4 separate regions of the Homo sapiens genome follow, and all the other regions are linked to region 4. The links come from fine-mapping of genetic effects on gene expression. A gene starts in region 4. Each other region holds a variant in brackets. All regions are shown on one strand. Distances are between the middles of the regions.

Evidence for each region. PIP is the estimated chance that this variant, and not a neighbour inherited with it, causes the effect.
Region 1: its variant is the best candidate, but not a certain one, in a credible set for the expression of TUB in pancreas (GTEx, PIP 0.84).
Region 2: its variant is the best candidate, but not a certain one, in a credible set for the expression of TUB in breast (GTEx, PIP 0.89).
Region 3: its variant is the best candidate, but not a certain one, in a credible set for the expression of TUB in ovary (GTEx, PIP 0.88).

The regions. Positions count from the first base shown.
Region 1 is chr11:8,019,287-8,024,433 of GRCh38, reverse strand. It overlaps a transcript of TUB not described here. Among named protein-coding and RNA genes, the nearest start is that of CASC23, 5.4 kb to the right of the region's middle. The variant C/T (reference allele first, on the strand shown) is at 2,569.
Region 2 is chr11:8,055,182-8,060,328 of GRCh38, reverse strand. It overlaps TUB-AS1 (TUB antisense RNA 1), which reads right to left and starts at 291. Exons shown (of 3, transcript NR_120538.1): 1 at 251-291. It also overlaps a transcript of TUB not described here. The variant T/C (reference allele first, on the strand shown) is at 3,026.
Region 3 is chr11:8,640,156-8,645,302 of GRCh38, reverse strand. It overlaps TRIM66 (tripartite motif containing 66), which reads left to right. Exons shown (of 25, transcript NM_001388022.1): 13 at 2,177-2,294; 14 at 4,151-5,076. Among named protein-coding and RNA genes, the nearest start is that of TRIM66, 40 kb to the left of the region's middle. The variant C/T (reference allele first, on the strand shown) is at 1,940.
Region 4 is chr11:8,078,315-8,083,461 of GRCh38, reverse strand. TUB (TUB bipartite transcription factor) reads right to left here and starts at 2,251. Exons shown (of 12, transcript NM_177972.3): 1 at 1,914-2,251. The coding sequence starts at 1,951. RefSeq lists an enhancer at 1-300.

The sequences.
Region 1 (5,147 bases), 59 kb after region 4:
GGTTTGGAAGGGCTGTTGTGGGCAATGGGAGTGAAGTTCATCAGGGAGAAGCAGAAAGACTGAGAGATGGCATTGGTGGCCCGGCCGAAGATGAAGACCATGAAAGTGGTGACATCCTGCACAGGCAAGTCATTTTTGTTGTAGGATTCTAGTGTTATAAGAAGAAAGGGGATAGAGATTTTAACATTGATCCACGCCGGGCTAGAGTCGTGCTGAGCATACGTGAGGGAATAAAAAGTGCTGGAGTGAGTGACTGAAATAATCTACCATGTAATACAAGCTGGGAAGAGAAGAGAGGCCGGGAAAAGGCTGGTAGGCCATGAAGGCAGACACCTTCGTGTTATGGCAGGAGTAATGTATAAGGAACATGCCTGAGGTCAGAGAGCTGGCAATTCATGTGTATGAGATTAGAAGTGAAGCAATTCCAGCTGTCATCATCTAGGAATTTATCCTGTGAATAACTGAAGAGAAGGGTCTAGAATGGGAAGGTCCAGAAATTGGGAGTGAAGAGTGCTAGTTTGGTCACTGATATGGGCACTGAAGCCTTTGAGGATAACGACTGAAGCTTGAGTGGAGACAAAATGGTTAATGGGGTGCCAAGCTGTGGAAAAAAATGGACTTCATGATACCCACTTTGTGCCAGTCATTTTACATAGATCTTTTCCTTTTATCTTCATCACAATCAGTGGTATAGATAAGGAGATTTGGAGAGGTCAAGGTCAATGTCCAAGTTTTGAGGAGTCCGTTTGGCTTGTGGATGCTGACTAGAGAATACAGTTATCAGTGAAAGGTCTGATTTTAAACCTATTGCGTTAAAGCTGTTGGCTGAATGTCTAGATGGAGACGTCTACAGGCATTTAGAGATGTGGGACTAAGTCTTGGCAAAAAGGCTGGAGTTGAAGATATAGATTTCTGTGTTAGAAGCATTGCGTTGATAACTGAGACCAGGGTGTAGCCTGAGAATAGAATGGAATAGAGTGAACTGGAAAAGAGGAGCACTTTGGCATGTGCTCAGATGTGGACAGTGGGGACCTAAGAGGAGCCAGAAATTGTAAAAATGTAGGCATCATATTTTGGTAGGTTGGAAAAATGGCCATAGATTTTCAGCTCCTGCCTCCAAGAGGTAAGGCCTGTTTCCCCACCCCTGAAATGTGGGCTGGCATTTTGACTGACTTTGACTAATACAAGGCAGCAGAGTGATGTGCAAGTTCTAAACCTAGGCCTCAAGAGACCCTGCAGCTTCTGCTGTCTCACTGGAATCCCTTCCACCACCATGTGTGCCAACCTGAGTGAGACTGCTGCAAGATGAGAAGGCACGTGGAGAGAAGGCCCAGCTGCTCTAGCCTTCCCAGCCGGAGCACCAGATATGTGAGCAAGCCCAACCCAGAAAAGCTGAGCCTGGCCCAGACCACAAAACTGCCCAGCTAAGCCCAGCCCAAATTGCTGATCCACAGAATCTTGTGCTAACTCAAACAGTTGTTTTGTTGTTGTTGTTTTGTTTTTGTTTGTGTGTTTTTTGTTTTGTTTTGTTTTGTTTTTGAGACACAGTCTTGCTCTGTCGGCCAGGCTGGAGTGCAGTGGCACGATCTCCACTGCACTGACTGCAACCTCCGTCTCCCGGGTTCAAGCAATTCTCCTGCCTCAGCCTCCCGAGTAGCTAGGATTACAGGTATGTGCCACCACACCTGGCTAATTTTTGTATTTTTAGTAGAGACAGGGTTTCACCATGTTGGCCAGGCTGGTTTTGAACTCCTGACTTCAGGTAATCCGCCCGCCTTGGCCTCATAAAGTGCTGGGATTACAGGCCTGAGCCACCGCGCCTGGCCAAAACAGTTGTTATTTTAAGTCACTAAATTTAGGAGTCACTTGTTAACATGGCAATAGATAACTGACATGCACATGGCCCAGAAGCAAGGCGGACAACAGCTTACATAAACACACGGAGGAGAGGTCAACTTGGGTGAGGACTTGAAGGAAAGGTGTTTGCCAGGTTCAAAGATGTGATGGGGGCAGCAACCAGAGAACAGTGCTGGAAAGTGAAAGTTAACTATTAACAATGGTTCCTTATAGAGTTAGGATGGGGATGAGGTCAGCAGAACACAGATTTTCACTTTTAATGCTATGTACCCAATGTATGTGTTGCTTGTGTAATGGTTTTAACAGCTTGATTGAGTATTGTGTAATTTTTGAATAATTCAATATTTATGTCTTAAAAAACAAGTACTGATGAGAACATAGAGGAGGTGGTGTGGACTAGTGCTTTTGGAGAGTAGACAAACCAGCTGCAGCACAATCAACTGCGAAGTTTTAAACAAACATTGAGCCCAGGTCCTACCCCTGGATATTCTGATTCAGTTAGTTTGGTCAAGGGCCAGGTGAGTTGTTTTCTTCACATAGCTCCCCAGGTACTGAGATTGTCAGGGTGAGAAGAAAAGAGTTCTGAAGACAGAAACCCAGTAAATGTCTTTATGTAGGGGTCTGAAAGCAGAAAAATAATTTTCTTTTTTTTTTTTTTTTTGAGCTGGAGTCTCGCTCTGTTGCCCAGGCTAGAGTCCAGTGGCGTGATCT[C/T]GGCTCACTGCAAGCTCCACCTGCCGGGTTCACGCCATTCTCCTGCCTCAGCCTCCTGAGTAGCTGGGACTACAGGCGCCCGACACCACGCCCAGCTAATTTTTTTGTATTTTTATTAGAGACGGGGTTTCACCGTGTTAGCCAGGAGGATCTCGATCTCCTGACCTCGTGATCTGCTTGCCTCAGCCTCCCAAAGTGTTGGGATTACAGGCGTGAGCCACCACGCCTGGCCAAGATTTTCAAACCAAGCTTCTGTGGAAGACTAGAGTTCCAGAAACGTTTACAATATGCATTAATAAAACAGCAATTTATACCACTTGTTGCATGATTACTAAGTCCCAGGCAATATGATAGGCCCTTTATATTTATTACCTCATTTATTTATTTTTATTTTTTGAGACAGAGTCTAGCTCTGTCGTCCAGGCTGGAGTGCAGTGACACAATCTCGGCTCACTGCAAGCTCCGCCTCCCCGGCTCAAGCAATCCTCCAGCCTCAGCCTCCCAAGTAGCTGGGATTACAGGCGTGCACCTCCATGCCCAGCTAATGGTTTTTGTTTTTTGTATTTGTAGTACAGACGGGGTTTCACCATGTTGGCCAGGCTGGTCTCAAACTGATCTCAAGTGATCTGCCCACCTCAGCTTCCCAAAGTACTGGGATTACAGGTGTGAGCCACTGCGCCAGGCCTATTACCTCATTTAATACTCACAACACTTCCCCAAGAAACTGTGGCCCAGGGAGAAGTAATTTGTCCAAAGTTAGCTAGGTGGAGTCAGGATTTGAATGCAGGTTATCTAATTCCAAAGTCTTTCTGCTTTTATAGGTTTGCTTTTGCAGGGAAAAATTATTTACTATATGGAATTAGCTCAACTTTAAGTTTTTCTCCCAGAATATGTCACTGCTTATTTCTAATATAATCTAGACTGTGAGCTCATCTCCCGGAGGAAATTCTATCTTTTTATCGCCTTATTTCCAGGGCCCAGGATATAGTTCGCACTCAATACATGTTTGTTGAATAAATGAATGAATGTGTGAATTTGGGATCTGAACCAAAGTTTGTAGGTTTTGTTATTTTAAGTTTAATACTCCAATAATAGAGTTCTTCTCCGTGGAGAGCACCACTTTTCAAAAAGGCAGGTGCACTGGAATCATGAGGTGGACAGGAGATTTGCTGGGGCTGTGCAAGGAAGGGCTGATGAAGAAACAGAATTAACCAATTCAGACGATATATTTCCCCAAAGAAGGCAATGAAAGGAAAAAAACAGACGTGGATCAGTTGCGCCCATCTCGAGGAGGTAAACAAGACACAGGTGAATAAGTTTACAGGCTGAAGAGAGATCACTAGTAAAGAGGCGAAGGTGCAGATGGAGGAGACAGATGGGATTAATACGGGGCGAGACTCAGGGAAGGTGAGGAGGGGTCCTAGGCAAACTAGCCTTAGGCAGGAGGGACACCTGTTCCTCTGAATCTAGGCAAACAAGGGCTGTCGAAGATGCAGGGAGGTTTTTGGCAGAGTTAAGGGAAGGAGAGCACAGGAAGCAGGACTTCACGGAGATGAGAGCAGCCCAGTAAATGAAGTTTGTCTTCCAGCCCTCACCATCTAGGGTCATGGGTCAGGAAATTTAACTCCAGAATTCTGCAGATGGACTTGGGGTTACGAAACTTAAAAACAACAAACAAACAAACTACTATCTACTATCATCATGGTTTCATTTTAAATACAAGGGTGGCATTTAACACACCAACAAAAGGTAGAACAGGCATAACCTAGGAATAAATGTACTCGGCTTTATGACCAACTCACTCCGTTCTTATTTTTTTCATTTCGCCTGGGAGGATGACTCCTTCCTCCAGGACGAGTGCGTGGGGAGCGCAGCTCCAAACCGCCCACGCCGGCAGCCGCTCGCCATCCCCGCGGGGCGGGCGCGGAGCCTGGCAACTCGAGAGCGCCGCTCCTGCGCCCAGACAGCCGGCCCAGGCTGCCATCTCGCCCCGCGGAACAGGCAGCGACTCGCGGGTCCCCGGCAGCCAGCGGGACACTCCGCCCGGGGCCAGCCTCGGTCCCTGCGGAGGGCCGGCGGGGCGCAGACGCCGGCGGGCGCATCCCAGAGCCGAAGGCGCCCCCTCCTCGCCCCGCCCGCCAGGGGCCCACCCCGGCCCCTGCCCCGCCCCTCCCGGCGCCCCCTCCGCGCCCTTTCTCGGGGTCCCCCGGCGGAGCGACCCTGGCGGGGCAGCTGGGGTGGGGGCAGAGGTGCCAGCTCGCTAGTCCCAGTGGCCGCGTGCCCTCCTCCGACAGCTCTGCCCCGTGGGTGTGGGGACACTACCCTCGCTGGAGCTCCGCTGCGCCGTACCCGAGGCTCTGGGTCCCGGATGCCCGAGGGTCCGGGTGCCCAAGCCCACCCTGGGGGTCGGGCGCTCGCGCCAGTCCTAGCCCCCGGAGGCCCGCTTCTCCCGCAGGAGATCGAGGGTCAGCAGGCGCTCACGCAGGGCCACCCTTCGGGCGCCCTACCTGTCATAGCTCCAGCGGCTGTAAGACAGGGTCCGGTGGCTGCTGACTCCCTCCATCGCCGCCTCCGGCTCC
Region 2 (5,147 bases), 23 kb after region 4:
CTGTACGGAGGGACCTGGCATCTGGCACCCCTTCCAGAAACAAGGTCCAGGCAGGCCTGAGTTCTTGGCCCTTCAGCACTAGTTCTGGACCCTTGTGACTGTGTTCTCCGCAGGTGACCTCTTCACTCTCTTGGCTTTCCCACCTATCCATGGGGCTCCCAAATCTACTTCCTGATGGCTCCCCTGAGCCCCAAATGCCTCTGGGCCCCTCCAGGGATACCTCTAAGTCTCCAGGTTCAAAGCAACTCACCTTACTCCAGACCTGCTCTTCCTCCTGTTTTCTGGCAATGTGCATAGTCCTGCCATTCGCTCAGTCATCACCCCAGAAACCCAGGCCCCACCCTAACCCTCCTCATCTCGCCTGTGGCTCCACCCATGAAGCCCTCCTATCGGTCCCCTCCCCTGTCCCCAGTGCCTCTGCCCGGATCGAGGCCTCACATGTCCCCAGCCTCCTTCTGGTCTCCTTGACTGCAGTTCTGCCTGCTCCAGGAACATTACACTTTTAAAAGCCAACCCGAGCATGTCACTTGTCTGCTGACAAGGCTCTTTCCACTGCTCCTCGTTCCAAAGGATACAAACCAAGCTCTTCCATGAGGCTTACGAGGCTGCAGGACCTGCCCCCTGACCCCTCTCCTGCCTTGCTCTGCTGTCTCCCCTCCAGGCTGGCTTAGCTCCAGCCACTCCTAAACTCCCGGCAGATCTCCCCGCAGAACTTCTTTCTCATCTCCTGCCTCAGCACACACCCTCTCGTCTCCTCAGATCAAGGCTTTTCCCAGTGTGCCCTTGGGTACCTGCTTCACCATCCCCTAGCATACTCCCGGGCACCACCCTGCCCAGACCTGCCAAAAGAGAATCTCCGCATTTTTAACACAAATCTGTGGATGCTGCACACTAAATGTCGAGAGGCACTGTTCCGCTGAGCAGCTCCTCTTGTCCCAGCCTCGCTCCTGCCTCAGCTGGGCAATTTCTTCTTTTTTTGCCCCTGTACTCTCCAGGGTGTAACTAACTGCGACTGGATGTCTCCTCTGCTGGGCTGTGAGCTCCATACAGGCAGTGACCACGTCTTCTTCCTCTGACCTGTAAATCCCTGAGCCTGCTACAGAGAAGGGACCAATGAACGGGACCCCCACCTGAGCCCCAGTGCCCCCGGCCAGGAGGAGGTCAGGCTGATCTAGTGACAAGCCACAGCTTGTCTGGAAACCTAAGACACTGCTCCCAGGGTCTCTGCAAGTTACATCTGTCCCTCCACCCCACCCTACCTCACCGTCTGCACAGTAAGGAGACATGTTGGGACTATGTGTAATGGAGGGCCTACGGGGTGTTAACAGTGACATTTAACAACAAGCTCTCCAGAAAATGTCTGCATGCGTAGACTCAATAAGTTTATTATAAATTTTACTGACACAAAGGATGTATAGCACATAATTTACAAATACTAATGAAATATCCAATATTCTTTATTGTAAATTCCATATAGCCAGATGACTGTCCCAGAAATCAACCCATTCAATGAGTTTCGCCTAACTCTTTATCTGTAGCCAACCTACGGTTGCAATGACAAATTACTGTAGTTCCAGCTTAATGCTGCTTGATATTTTCATTTATGTTAACAAGTAAGTTGAAAGTGAAACAACAAAGACATGTCAGAACTTCACTCCTTCACTGGTGGTCGGAGTGACTTCTTTGCTGAATAGGTTAATAGTTTCTGAATACTGGAAAAATCTTTGTTTTCTGCTATTCACCATGGAGCAACTATAAACATGACACCCTTTAAAATGTAATCTGCATTAGTAGTATTTTTTCCCATCACTTTCTCAGGTCTAGACAATCAACAAAACAATAAACCAGGTCTTAATGTGCAGCACCTGTTGACTCCCCTGGTCTAGCCACCCTCGCCATGGCCAATCTGTGATGTGACTGAGCATCGAAGTGCGAGGAGATGCTCAGCAGTGCACGGTCACGTGGCAGTTCCACCCCGCAGACACAACAGACAAGCGCAGGGAAAGGCAGTAAAATGAATACGAAGTGGTGAGTTTTCAGTATATTACCTTTGTAAACATAACTTGTTTAATGTTAAATTTATACCGCTTCTTTTTTTTTTTTTTTTTAATTTTTGAGAGAGAGGATCTTGCTCTGTAGCCCAGGCTGGAGTGCAGTGGTGTGATCTCGGCTCACTGTGGCCTTGACCTCCTAGGCTCAAGTGATCCTCCCACCTCAGCCTCCTGAGTAGCTGGGACTACAGGCATGTACCACCATGCCTGGCTAATTTTTGTATTTTTTTGTAGAGATGGGGGTCTCACCATGTTGCCCAGGCTGGTCTCGAACTCCTGGCCTCAAGCAATCCTCCTGCCTCGGCCTCCCAAAGTGCTGGTGCGGCAGGCCAGGCATCACTAACACAGGCCTCCATAACAACTGTTTCAGTACTGACTGAGTGGTTAAGTCAAATATTAAAAGCTGACAGAACCAGTGCCCTTATACAAAGGCTGGGATGTAACAAAAGCCCACCAAGAGTTTTGCCTAGGCCTTTCCTGGGCCTTAAAGCATGACAAAATAATGAAGGAATTCTTAACAGGCCTCGTTTAAGGTTAAACAAGTTTTATTGGGGGTCTGAAGAAACTCCCCAGGCCTCCACAAATAAGTTTTATTGGAGGGCTGAAGGAACTCCCCAAACCTCCGTGACTTCGCAGGGGACAAGATAAGGAGGGTAATTACCCCTGGCACCTGGACCCATCTAGATTAAGTAAATTTACTGAGGCCCCAGAGGAAGGTCTTCAGGACTCGAATCTTAGTTATAGATTAAAAGAAGTTAATCACTTATGTCTTTAGACGAATGCACACTTACACATAGACATATAGTTTAGAAGATATATAAGCTCTGGAAAACTTTGTAATTTTGAGTTGGTCTGGCAATAATTTCCAGGCCTTCTCCCTGTGACCGGTTACAGAAATAAAAACTCCCCTCTCTCCCAGTTCATCTGCATCTCGTTACTGGGCCTTGAGAATAAGCAGCTGACCCTCGGTTTGG[T/C]CCAGGAACACTGGGATTACAGGCGCGAGTAACTGTGCCCGGCCAGTTTGATGCTTAATAACAGCTATGTTGAGCAAAGGGCTTACAAACATTTTCCTTTATTGCGCAATCGATTCTCATGAGCTGTCTGTGGGCCAGTTCCAGGAGAGTCACCCTAAAGAACTGAATGGGACCCTCCATTACTGCCATTACCCAGAGGGCCAGTCCCCTCCCCAGCCCTCCAGAGCCTAGCTTGTGAGCTGCCAGAGCTGGGATCCTGAGAGTCTAACAGACCCTGCTGTGTGATCCAGCCAGCTTGTTTCCACTCTGTGGGCCTCAGTTTCCTCAACTTTGAGGGGGAAAATGGTGCCTCCTAACTCGTGACGTGTGGAGAGAATGAAACGCCCACTTGCCCTTCCCCCACACACTTGGCCTACATACTGTAGTTCGTTCCCATCACTGCCCCCACACCTTACTTGAGACACACCATGTGCTTGTTTTGGGGACATGCCTGCACACCCCTCACCCTCCCAAACCACATCACACACAACAACATGTCACCCCATATACCACTCAGAGACAAGCTCACCTGTAGACAGCTGCCTCCCACACATCACCTCAGACACTCCACAGATAGATTTTCCTCCAGCTCTACCTCACACACAGCCTACCTGCATACCCAAACCACACCCCACAAAGGCTCCCATGCGCATATGTACCCAAAATTCCTTCGTGTGCTTTGTACCCACATGTACTGTGCCAAATACCTTTTCCCTCCCCCCAGGCATTTCACAGAAATGGATGCCTCACCCTGCCCACCACAACCCACTGACACTCCAGACGTCCCCCTGCCTTCCCCTGTCAGCACAAGCATGCGCACCACACACATGTGCCCATCATTTATTTATACTTCTCTCCAAACTCACACCTCACAGCACACACTCATGCCACCCCCACGCACAGGCATTCCCATATGGCCCTCACACACTCAAGGCATTCCCATATGGCCGCACATTCCAGGACAGGAGACCCCAGCCAGCCCTCTGAGCCCATGCCCTGGATTAAGGAGAGTGAGGGGCATCCTGGTAGCACGAGGTGGGAAAGCTAGGGTGCACTTCCTCGTGGTGACAGCTTGCTTCCCTGGAGGTCAGGCCCTGGCTTGAGGTGCAGGGAGGACTTCAGAGAGCTGAGAAGGGATAGGACAGAACTGTTGGCTAAACACCTCTGTGTCCTCCAGATCCAGCCTCAGGCGGCTCCAGCAGCCAGCTCCTTCCTGCTCTCCCCAGCACCCCCAACCCAAACAAGGACACCCATCTGCTTCTGGAAGCTCCTCCCATGCCCTGTGAGAGCGGGACTCTTGGGGGCTTAAGGGCCTTGCCCAGGCTGCAGTGAACGCTGAGCCCAGGCTCCCCTGTCACAGGGAGGGATCAGAAGTCACAGGGCCCTGAGCGAAGGGGCTAGTGGGAAGGTGAGCAGGGAGGCCAGGGCTCCTGCTTCCAACTCCACAGGTGCTGTCAGGACTCCAAGGGGGTGCTCCTTTCCTATGCCTTGCCAGACTGAGGCGGTGGCAGAGGCACACACTGTCATTGGCTGTCCCAGCCCTCAGCTCCACCTGAAGGTTGGACTCTATCCTGTCCCCCAGTCATCATCCTGTACTCTTGCCCTGTCCTTGCCCCCACCCCCAGCCCATCAGCAGCAGAGCTGAGTCCTGGGGTGAGGGGCCTCTGTCTGTCTGCTCCCATCACCCAGCATCTGTGCGGCCAGGGTAAGGGCCTGCCTCCTGGACCACCCCATCATCTGAGCAAGGAGGAGCCAGTGTGCAGCAGATGCTGGGTGGGCTCTGGGGCCCATGATGGGCAGATGCCAGCACATCTGTCTAGGTGGTCCCAGGACACTCTAAGAGCAGCCTCAGGCCAGACCGGGTCCTGATGGGCACAGGGAAGCCATCTCAGGGGTACACCCCTTCTTACAGCGCCACCCAGCGATAATCCAGAGTAATGGCTGAGGCCTTAGAGAGCAATGGTGAGGTATGCGCCACCCACTTCAGAAAGCTCACTCACTATCTTGCATTCTCCTCCCACCTCTCTCTCTCTCACACACGCACACACACAGGCCACTCCAGACTGATCCCACCAGGCTGATG
Region 3 (5,147 bases), 560 kb before region 4:
GCAAGAATTTTGAGAGAAGTCGATGGAGTTTATATTTGAATACTTTGAATCTAAGGTGCCTGTAGTGCATCCAAAACCAACTCCAAGCTACCTACCATTAAAAAGCCGTTTTAATATATGGGTGTGGAAGTCAGAAGAAAAGTTGGTTTTGGAGAAGGAGATGTAGGAGTCACCAGGAAATCAGTGGTATCACCTTGGAAGAGTGTGTGGAGCAAGAAGAGAGAAAGTCAGGAACCCAGGGAATACCGTCATTTTCAGCATAGACAGAGGAAGATGATGACTGGAGGAGAGTGAGAAGCAGTGGTCAGAGGTGAGAAGCAATGGTCAGAGGTTAGAAGCAAAACAGAGTGTGGTACACAGAAATGAACAGTTTCCAATTTTAAGTGGTCCATTTGACAATGCTGCATGGGTGAAAGAAGATGAATAGTGACGAGCAGCCTCTGGATCTGGGAATCAGGCTATCTTCTGAAAGAAGCTCCAGTGAAGTAGAAGGGTCAAAAGCTAGAATGAGGAGACTGAGGATGGGTGGTGACGAAGTAGAGACAGAAGTGAAAAGAAGAAAAATAAAAACATAGCCTGAGAAGATGGCAGAGTTGGGGGAAACTTTTTTTTAAGCTTGGAAAACATTTGCACACATGTATATGGGAGAAGAGGTTGAAGATAGAGAGGAGGGGTGTGTGGTGGGGTAAGTACACTGAGAAAGCAGGAGGAAGGATATAGAGTGAACTGGTTGACCTTAAACACAAGGACAGTCCCTTCGTCTGAGATGGGAGGACAGGAAGGGGACAATGCTGTAGTTAAGTTTGAGGGTAGAAGGGATACAAGTTGGGGTAATTTATCCTTTATGGTGTCTTTTTTTTCTCTGTGAAATAGGAGGTGATAATAAGAGGGTTAAAACATTGGTAAGTAGCACCAAAGTAAAGATTTTAAATGGTCATTGAGTGCAGTGGAAGAGAAAGATGACAAGAAAAGAAGTGACAAGAGAAAGGGCTGAGGGGTGCTGCTGAAATTCATAATCACTGAAGTGGCCCCAGATAACATGGCTTTGGTATGGCTGGATTACCTAAGAGTAGGAGTTGGCGATGGGGAGGGAATTAGGACACTAGTGATATCATGACTGTAAATGAAAGGAAGCTGGGAAGTCCTGTGGACTGAAGGAGCAGGGCTTGGAGAGGTTGAACAACATACTCTGAAAGAGCATGAACTTGTTATGACCAGGGTGGGTTGTTGGAGTTTAAAGGTCTCATAGGTAGAATGGTTGTAAATGATGAATAGGGTCTAGGTATGGTGACTAAACTGAAAACAAGGTGGTTGCCATGCAAGAGATCAATGAAATGAGAGGCTAAGATGTTCGTTGGGACATTAGTTAACTAGAGGATAGCAGGGTAAGTTGGACACTTGCCAAAGCCCTGGATAAATAGGAGAGTTAGTGATGAGAAATAGATGAAAGTGTTGGGAGAGGAAGAGGGCTATTGAGTAGGACAGAAGGGTGTTTTACCTGCAAGTGGAAGTACAGCAATGGGGAGCTCAGACAATGCCTGCCCCCACTAGGCTTTTAAATTGAGGTGATGGTAGAATGAATGGAGCTGCCAGTCAACGATGTAGTGAGGGAGAATGACAAATCACTTAAGGCCTGAAAAGATAAGAATGTAGGGGTTCCAGGCCAGGTGCGGTGGCTCACGCCTGTAATTCCAGCACTTTGGGAGGCCGAGGTGGGCAGATCACGAGGTCAGGAGATCGAGACCATCCTGGCTAACACAGTGAAACCCCGTCTCTACTAAACAAAATACAAAAAATTAGCTGGGCGTGGTGGCGGGCACCTGTAGTCCTAGCTACTCAGGAGGCTGAGGCAGGAGAATGGCGTGAACCTGGGAGGCAAAGCTTGCAGTGAGCTAAGATCGCGCCACTGCACTCCAGCCTGGGCAACAGAGTGAGACCC[C/T]GTCTCAATTAAAAAAAAAAAAAAAAGAATGTAGGTTCCAGGAGCCTTGATAAGAGGAAAGGGATCAGCTGGGAGGATGGACAGGTGCTAAGGTGCAAGAGAATGAGAATATGGAGGATGACCAGAGGTTAAAGGGCCATGACTTTGAGCCTTTCAGCTTGTCCAAAGAGTAAGGGAAGGGGAGTTGTCATTTAGGTGCAAGATGCCCAAATAAATGACCTTTGGTGCTGTTGTCAGATTGTGTTTCAGATGCAGCGATTGCTGGAGACAAGTTGTAACACAGATCCTGGCTCCCCTTGGAGTATCAGATTCACCTGGGAGCCTAACTTCTGGACCAAGCAGCTAGCTTCTCTTGGTGAGCTTGGACCCACCCACCCAGGCCTACCCACCCTGTGGGCTTTGACTTAATTGCTTACCTTACTGGGTAGGTCAGCATATGCCCAAGAGAAAGCACTCTCTGGGACTGCCAGTGGTCATGGAATCATTCAGCAAACCTTTTTTTTTTTTTTTTTTTTTTTTTGAGGGGGAAGAGGAGAGGATGAGGAATTAAATAACAGTGGCAATATAGGACTTTGTATCAGGATGAGTTGAAATCTGAGTTTACCATTCTGTGTAAATGTCCTGTTACATTGGTTTTATTGCTGAGGAGGAGACAAGACAGTCACCCTGCTCTCCGGAATGCTGTATGGCAGTACAGATGAATGTGTGTCTCTGTGGTCACACAAAGGTATACACGTGTGGGCACAAGCAGGGGTATCTCAGCAACAGTGAGACTGCGTGTGCATGTTTGTGTCACACAGACATATCCTTTCGAGTTGAGATGTAAGCAGATAATTCATGGCCTTGTGCATTTTTCTTCCCTGCTGCAATCATTTGCTGGCATTCAGTCTTTAGGCAGAATGTAGACAGCTTGAAGTTGTGCCTGTGTTGACAGCCTAACGAGTGTTAAACTGATGGCCAGCTGCTGCCTTCATTTGAGGCTGTTAATCTTATTGAAAATTTGTTGAACTTGGCAAAGTGACAAATGATATGTAGGTTTATTTCTTTTCTTCCCTCTTTCCTTTGATTTAACTCAGCAGACCTTTGATGGCCACCTACTCTTGTTTAGGCCCCATGCTGAGCACCAAAGAACCAATGGTGAATAAAACACATTTTCCTTAAGGAGCTCAGACTTCTTCTAAGTAAGTCTCACCAAAATAATGAGAGGAAGGAGTCATTAGACTGAGTTAGCCATAGATCTACTTGTGCACAAGGGACCTAGAGGCCTCAGGGGGCAGTGCCGGTGCCTGGCACTGACCTGGTGTATTAGTCCATTCTCGCATTATTGTGAAGAAATACCTGAGACTGGGTAATTTATAAAGAAAAGAGGTTTAATTGGCTCATGATTCTGCAGGATGTACAGGAAGCATGATCCTGGAACCTGCTCGGCTTCTGGGGAGGCCTCAGGAAACTTACAATCATGACAGAAGGTGAAGACGCACATCACATGGACAGAGCAGCAAGAAACAGAGCAAGGGGGAGGTGTTACACACTTTAAAGAAATCAGGTCTCACGAGACCTCTATCACAAGAACAGCACCAAAGGGACGGTGCTAAACCACTCATGAGGGATCCGCCCCCACGATCCAGTCACCTCCCACCAGGCCCCACCTCCAACACTGGGGATTACAATTCAACATGAGATTTGGGCGGGGACACAGCTCCAAACTGTATCACCTGGTATTAGAGCTTCCCCACTCTCTTCCGTCCTACTTGCTCAACACACAGTTCCCCACACCTGTATCTGGGAACTTGTTCATTGGTCCCAGGCATGGCTCTCTACCCTTTGCTACTTTCTAGCATACTCCCTCCCAACCCCAAAGTTGATTCTTTTTGTGAGAGTCTGATTGGGCTGTTCTGTTGGAAAAAAATGAGTGGGTGCTATTTGAGAGAGCTTGTGGTTTCCCTAGTGGGACAGAAACAGAGTCAGGGCTGAGCATCTGGTAAAAGCTGAACTAATTTCTCAAATATCCTAGGCCCCCAAAGCAGGTGCATACAGGTGCTATTACTGGCAGCATTCTAGACCGAGTCTAGGAGATCAAGGGTTGAGTTTCTTAATCTCTGTTCCTGGTACAGGATTGTTGAATGAGGTTCTTTTGTCCCAGGAGCAGGAAGTAGCAAGGTGGGAGCAACTTGAAAAACTTTTGAAAAACTCTCTATTCTGCATTTTCAGGCTGCATAACTACTGAAGGTGGACAAATGTCCAGGGCAGATGCTCCTGCTTATGGAGGCTTACAGGGGTCATCACCCTTTTATCAAAGCCACCAGTCTCCAGTGGCTCAGCAAGAGGCTCTTAGCCACCCCTCACACAAGTTCCAGTCTCCAGCAGTGTGCTCCTCATCTGTGTGCTGCTCCCACTGCTCCCCAGTCTCGCCTTCCCTCAAAGGCCAGGTCCCCCCACCCAGCATACACCCAGCCCACAGCTTCAGGCAGCCCCCTGAGATGGTGCCCCAGCAGCTGGGGTCTCTGCAGTGCTCTGCCCTGCTGCCCAGGGAGAAAGAGCTGGCCTGCAGCCCTCATCCACCAAAGCTGCTGCAGCCCTGGCTGGAAACCCAGCCCCCCGTGGAGCAGGAGAGCACATCCCAGCGGCTGGGGCAGCAGCTGACTTCCCAGCCCGTGTGCATTGTCCCCCCACAGGATGTTCAGCAAGGAGCCCATGCCCAGCCCACCTTACAGACACCCTCTATCCAAGTCCAGTTTGGCCACCACCAGAAGCTGAAGCTCAGTCACTTTCAGCAGCAGCCACAGCAGCAGCTACCACCTCCACCACCACCCCTCCCCCATCCCCCACCTCCCCTTCCCCCTCCCCCACAGCAGCCACACCCACCTCTTCCTCCATCCCAGCATCTGGCTTCTAGTCAGCACGAGAGCCCTCCTGGCCCTGCCTGTTCTCAGAACATGGACATAATGCATCACAAGTTTGAGCTGGAGGAAATGCAGAAGGACTTGGAGCTTCTTCTCCAGGCTCAACAGCCCAGCCTGCAACTGAGTCAGACCAAATCTCCTCAGCATCTTCAGCAAACCATTGTGGGGCAGATCAACTACATCGTGAGGCAGCCAGCACCTGTCCAGTCCCAGAGCCAGGAGGAGACCCTGCAGGTAAGCGTCAGGGTGGCTTGGCGTGCATATTCTGCCCATCGTAGGATCACTCAGGGAACACAGCCTCCCCA
Region 4 (5,147 bases):
GCCATTCCGTTTGAGGCATATTTTCTCTAAGACCCCTGCACACTCTCTACAAGTGGCTTTAGTCCCTGGCTCCCTGGGAGAAGCTTTCTAGAACCATGTCTTGGCCTGGCCCAACCTCCAGTTTGCCAGATCCTAACCACGTCATAATCTCCACAGCCGTAAGTGCTGCCCCTCCCACCCTCCTCGGTCCATGGCCACCACCCTGCCATCTGGACCCCCGCACACAGGTACTTCCACAGCACCGGAGTCCACTCAGCCCACAAGCACCGCCCAGGCACCTCTGCCGCGTGGCTAGAAAAGGTTGATGACGCTCCATGGGGCTGCACTGTCTTCTAGAAGGTCCTCAGCCCACATGTGCCAAGAAAGGCCAGGATCCTCCAGAAACTACCTGTGCCCCAGCCTGGACGTCTGTCTGGCGCAGCAGCTCTTCTCAGTCAGCACAGCCCCAGTCCCTGGTTCCATGATGGAAACAGCTCCCTAATCCATGTGAGACTGAAGTGTGACTACATGTGTCTGCAGGAGAGCCTGTGGGTGACCTGTATGTGCGCACGTGTGAGGGTGTTGCTGGTGGTTGTGGGGAGAGACACAAAATAACCTGGAAACCCCTGAATCCCCCACAGGAGCTGAGATTAGAGGTAACAATTCTCAAGAGAAACCCTGAGTTCCCAGGCCACGTGCCTGTTTTCAGAAGGATCTGCTTTTAAGAAGCCTTGGGCGGTTTCAGCTGGTTTCCATTTGGGACGCTGTCTGGACAGACTCAGAGAAGAGCCCTGTCAGAACTATTTTCTATCAGTGACTGGTATGAGGCTCTAACAGAGAGCAAGCTGTGTTACAAGGCGGGACCTGAGGATCTCATCCTGCCGTCCGCTAGCACGTGCACCTGGGTCGACAATAACACAGTGGGCCTTAGGAGTCCAGCACCCATTTTCCACAGAGACAGCCCCGTAGCCCATGGCAACCAAGGAGCCAATGGGTGGCCAAGAATCTGGCGCTGCCATGGCGATGAGCTCCCTTCCCTGGTAATAGAATGGAGTAGAGTGGATAGGGAAAGACCTGCACCTGTGAGGGGCCCCCCAGAGACCACCTCCCCGCCCCCTTCCCAGGCAAATGGGAAAGCCCAGCCATCCTTGAGATAGACCACAGTGCCTGGCAGCAGAGGGTGGGGGGCTTCCCTGAGTGTGCCTGGATTCTTGAGTGCCTTTCTGCATGTGAGGGCAGTTCTATGTACTGTGAGCTGGTGTGTGTCTAGGTATAGACCTGCTAGCAAGTAGATTATTCAGTGTCTGAAAGAGACTGAGTAGCACTTGTGAGTGAGAAGCAGGTGTCAGTTATTCTCCAGATACAGGAGGTGGACGTGCACAGATATGCAGGCATGTGTCTTTGTGAGCCCAAGAATTCTTGTGTGTAGAATATACGGGTGCATGTCCACATGACCACTGGTGTGCTCTTGGTTCAGAATAACTGTCTTCACGGATCCATGCTTTGAGAGTGTGAACCGACCAGCAGGAGCGTCTTTGGCCCAAGGCAGGGACGTCCTGTGGGTGCATGCGTGCAGATGTATGAGCGTGTGCGCGCACCCTGCACAGGCGTGTGACTGGGGTTCTGGGCCTAGGAGGGGGCTCAGAGCAGTGTGGACTCCTTCCCCAGGCGGCCACATGGTGCTGCCTGACCCAACAAGGCCCACACAGGCCCCTTCCAGCAACCCTGGCAGATAAGGGGGTGGAGCGGGGCAGGCGGGAGCAGTCCGCAGGGGCCCTCAAAGTTGAGGGAGGAAGGACCAGCGACTCCAACCCGCGCCCCAGTGCTGGGATAGGTGGGGAGGGCAGCGGTGCCCTGCGCCCCGGCCGCGTATCCCCAGCCAGCTCACGTCCCGAGTCGGGAGTGGTGGGCGCCCCGGCCCGGCGCCCGCGTACCTGTAGGGAATCCAGTCGGAATGCGGCTTGGAAGTCATGTCTCTCGGGGGCGGGGCGGTGGCTGCGGCTCTGGAGGCCGGGGCCCGGAGGGGCCGGCGCGGGGGCCCTGCTCAGCTCCCGGGCCGCCCCGGGCCGCATCCTCCCGGGCCGGGGCGCTGGGCCCCGCCGAGGCCCGCGCTGCACGCCAGGGCCCCGGCTGCTGGCTCTGCGAGCGGCTGCCTGCGCGGCGCGGCGAGGCGAGATGGGCGAAGCTCCGGGAGTGCGCGGGTCGTGCGCGCGCGTGGAGGCGGGGAGGCCGACCGCACCGTCCCGCGCCCCTCTGGCGCCAAGGCGGGAGTACTGCGTGGCAGCGGCGGCCTGCCCCTTCTCCCTCGCCCCGCCCCGCCCCGCCCCGCAGAGACCCCACCCCCCGGCCGGCTCAGGGCCTGCGGAGCGCCCTTGCCCCCTCCCCCGAAATCGTCGCGATCCACGCTCCATGCGCGTGACCGCGCCGGCTCCCACCTTCGGCTAACGGCGGCGCTGCAGCCGGGCCAGTCCCCAGGCCTCCCAGCCTCAGTTTCGTCTTCTGTGAAACGGGGATCATTCGAACACCTCCCTGTGTACCTGCCCTACCTATCTGCGCTATGGGATGGGAAACCGATGCGCGGATTTGGCGGGGCAGGGACCGGGCCGGAGGCGCGGATGGAGAAGGAATCCAGTCGTGCAGGAAGAGGCGGGGGAACCTCCGGGCCGAAGCGTGGAGGTTGGCCTTCCCTCACCCCCACCTCCGAGTTCCCACACCCCCGCCTGGGGAACCCTCTGTCTTTGGGTTAAGGAGGTGTTTCCTCAGCAGTGGCTCCCTCCCATCTAAGCTATAGCGTCAAGGGAAGGGGAACATTTACGGTCTATTGCATTCCCAGCCCTTGCAAATTTCTAGTATGTAATCTCCACAGTAGCCTTGAGAGACAAACATCATATCCCTATAACCCAGAGAATAGGAATGCTGAGATGCCCAAGGCCGTAAAGCTAGGAAGTGGTGGAGCTGAAACTGTTCTGTGATCTGTGTCCTCCAAAGCCCTTCCTAAGGGGCGCAGTTGACCGGAGGCAAAAACCCCTACAAAGATCATCTGAAAGTCTCTGCGCGCTGAGGAGGTCCTGGCTGTGACTAGGACCAGCTTGAATGCAAGGCATGGCACACTGAGAAGGTGCGGGACCCACAGCAGGGCGGGCGGAAGCAAGGAGCAGCAGGCTGAGGGGTCACCAAGGCCTGCGTGTGGAGCAGGTGATCCGGGAGAGGTCTGCGGAGGGGCACGGTCCCCACACGCCCCGTGGGCGTCCTCGTGTGCATCCTGGATTCTGCCGCGCCAACCGCGCCAGAAGAGTGTTGTGCGGGGATCTTCTGATGATAAATAGGCGGTCAGGACTGCCCCGCAGAGAGTGTGAGAACAGCCAAGGGGGCTGAGGGAGGGGGCTCATCCTGCTGCCCTGGGGCTACAGCCAGACCCCCACCCCAGGGCTCTCCCAGCCCTTCAGCCTTGCCTTCTCTTGCCCATTAATTATAAAACACAATAACCCACAATATTTGGATTATTTGCTGGGCGTCAGGAGCTGTGTTAGGTGCTACGTACATATTATAATTCGTTTAATCCTCATAGCCACCCTAGAAGGTAGGCACCATTAGCATACCCATTTCACAGCAGAGGAACTGAGTCACAGAGAAGGCAAGGATCTTGCCCAAAGTCACACAGCTGGTCAATGATGAAGCTAGCATTCACACACAAAAGGTCTGGGTCTACAGCACTTACCCTCAGCCTCCTTTTGGCCAATCACAGTTCATGTAGTGCACACACACACACCCCTACACACATGCACACACACACGCACACCTACACACACCTACACACATGCATGCACACACACATGGCCTCTCTCTCCAGGCTTCTGGAGCTCAGGACAGGTCAGATCCATCTCTGTCGGGCACAACATTGATGCTCTCTGAACACTATGACCTCTGATTATTTATCAACCTCCAAGAGCTGTCACTGTCACTGGGGACAGAGAGCAGACAAAATAAAACACCTGGGAGTGGGGTGCAGAAGGCAGAAAGCAGGGCTGTTTTGTTGCCTGCTGGGATGCTTGGCCTGGACTCTGCTGGCCTTCCAGGAAGGGCAGCAGAGATTGGTCCCTACCCTGGAGACCGCAGCAGAGCAGCAAAGCATTGCCCCAGAGGCCTCTGTCCTTCAGGGCAGAACCTTGCCTAGAGATCAGAAGCTTTGACCCCTGGAGGCCGCGCCCTCCAGGCCACCCCTTCCTGAGTTGCAATTAGTAGCTACCATGTCAGAGACAGCTAGAGTCTAAAAGACTTTCCCTTCAAGAATTTGAAGCTGTTTTCCTCCCTTTATTCCCAAATTACCTGACACCTTAAAGCAATCAGAATTTAGTTGGAAGGTCTCAGGAGCCTGGAGTAATTGAATCTATTAAATAGACAGTTTAGGCTCTGTCCTAAGGGAGCAAAATCTGGAGGCAGAGTGAGGTGCAGAAGTAAGATGGCTTTCCAAGTCTCTTTCTGCAGAAGTTACATAGGTACATGGGATGTGGGGGAACCATGGGACTGAGCGCCAGTGTATGCATGAGTGTGAGTGTGTGTACATGTGGGGGAGCCAGTGGGACTGAGCGCCAGTGTACGCATGAATATGAGTGTGTATGTGTGTACATGTGTGTATGCACATGGGTTGTGTGAGTCCCATACACTGGCACACAAGGGACTGTGTGCCAGTGTATGCCTTGAGTGTGTGTGTGCATGGGAAGTTGGGGGCAGCAGGACTGTTTCAGTGTACGCAGCAATGTGTGTATGTGTGTGAGAGATGGCCCTGCAGTCTGAACAGGACTGCACAAGAACATTTGTTGGATGGTACGCGTGCAGGAGAATGACGTGTGTGCTTCTTCGAGTTCTATGGAGTGCATGAGTGTTAACATTCTACTCAGAATGCATGATGGCTTTTTCCACTCAAATGACTTCCGTGGTTGACATTTTAAGTTTACGTCCTTGGCTTCCATCAAAAAGCTACTCCAGAAAGTCATATGATGTATATTATACTAGGCCATGATCAAAAGTTATATTTTTACAACTGCACTATAACCATGACCCTCGAAGAAGGGCATAAGCTTTTCAAATTTAGCCCCAGGAACAAGGTTATCTGGACTGAAACACCACCACACAGCAATCCCAACATGCCTCCCTCACCACCTGCCCAA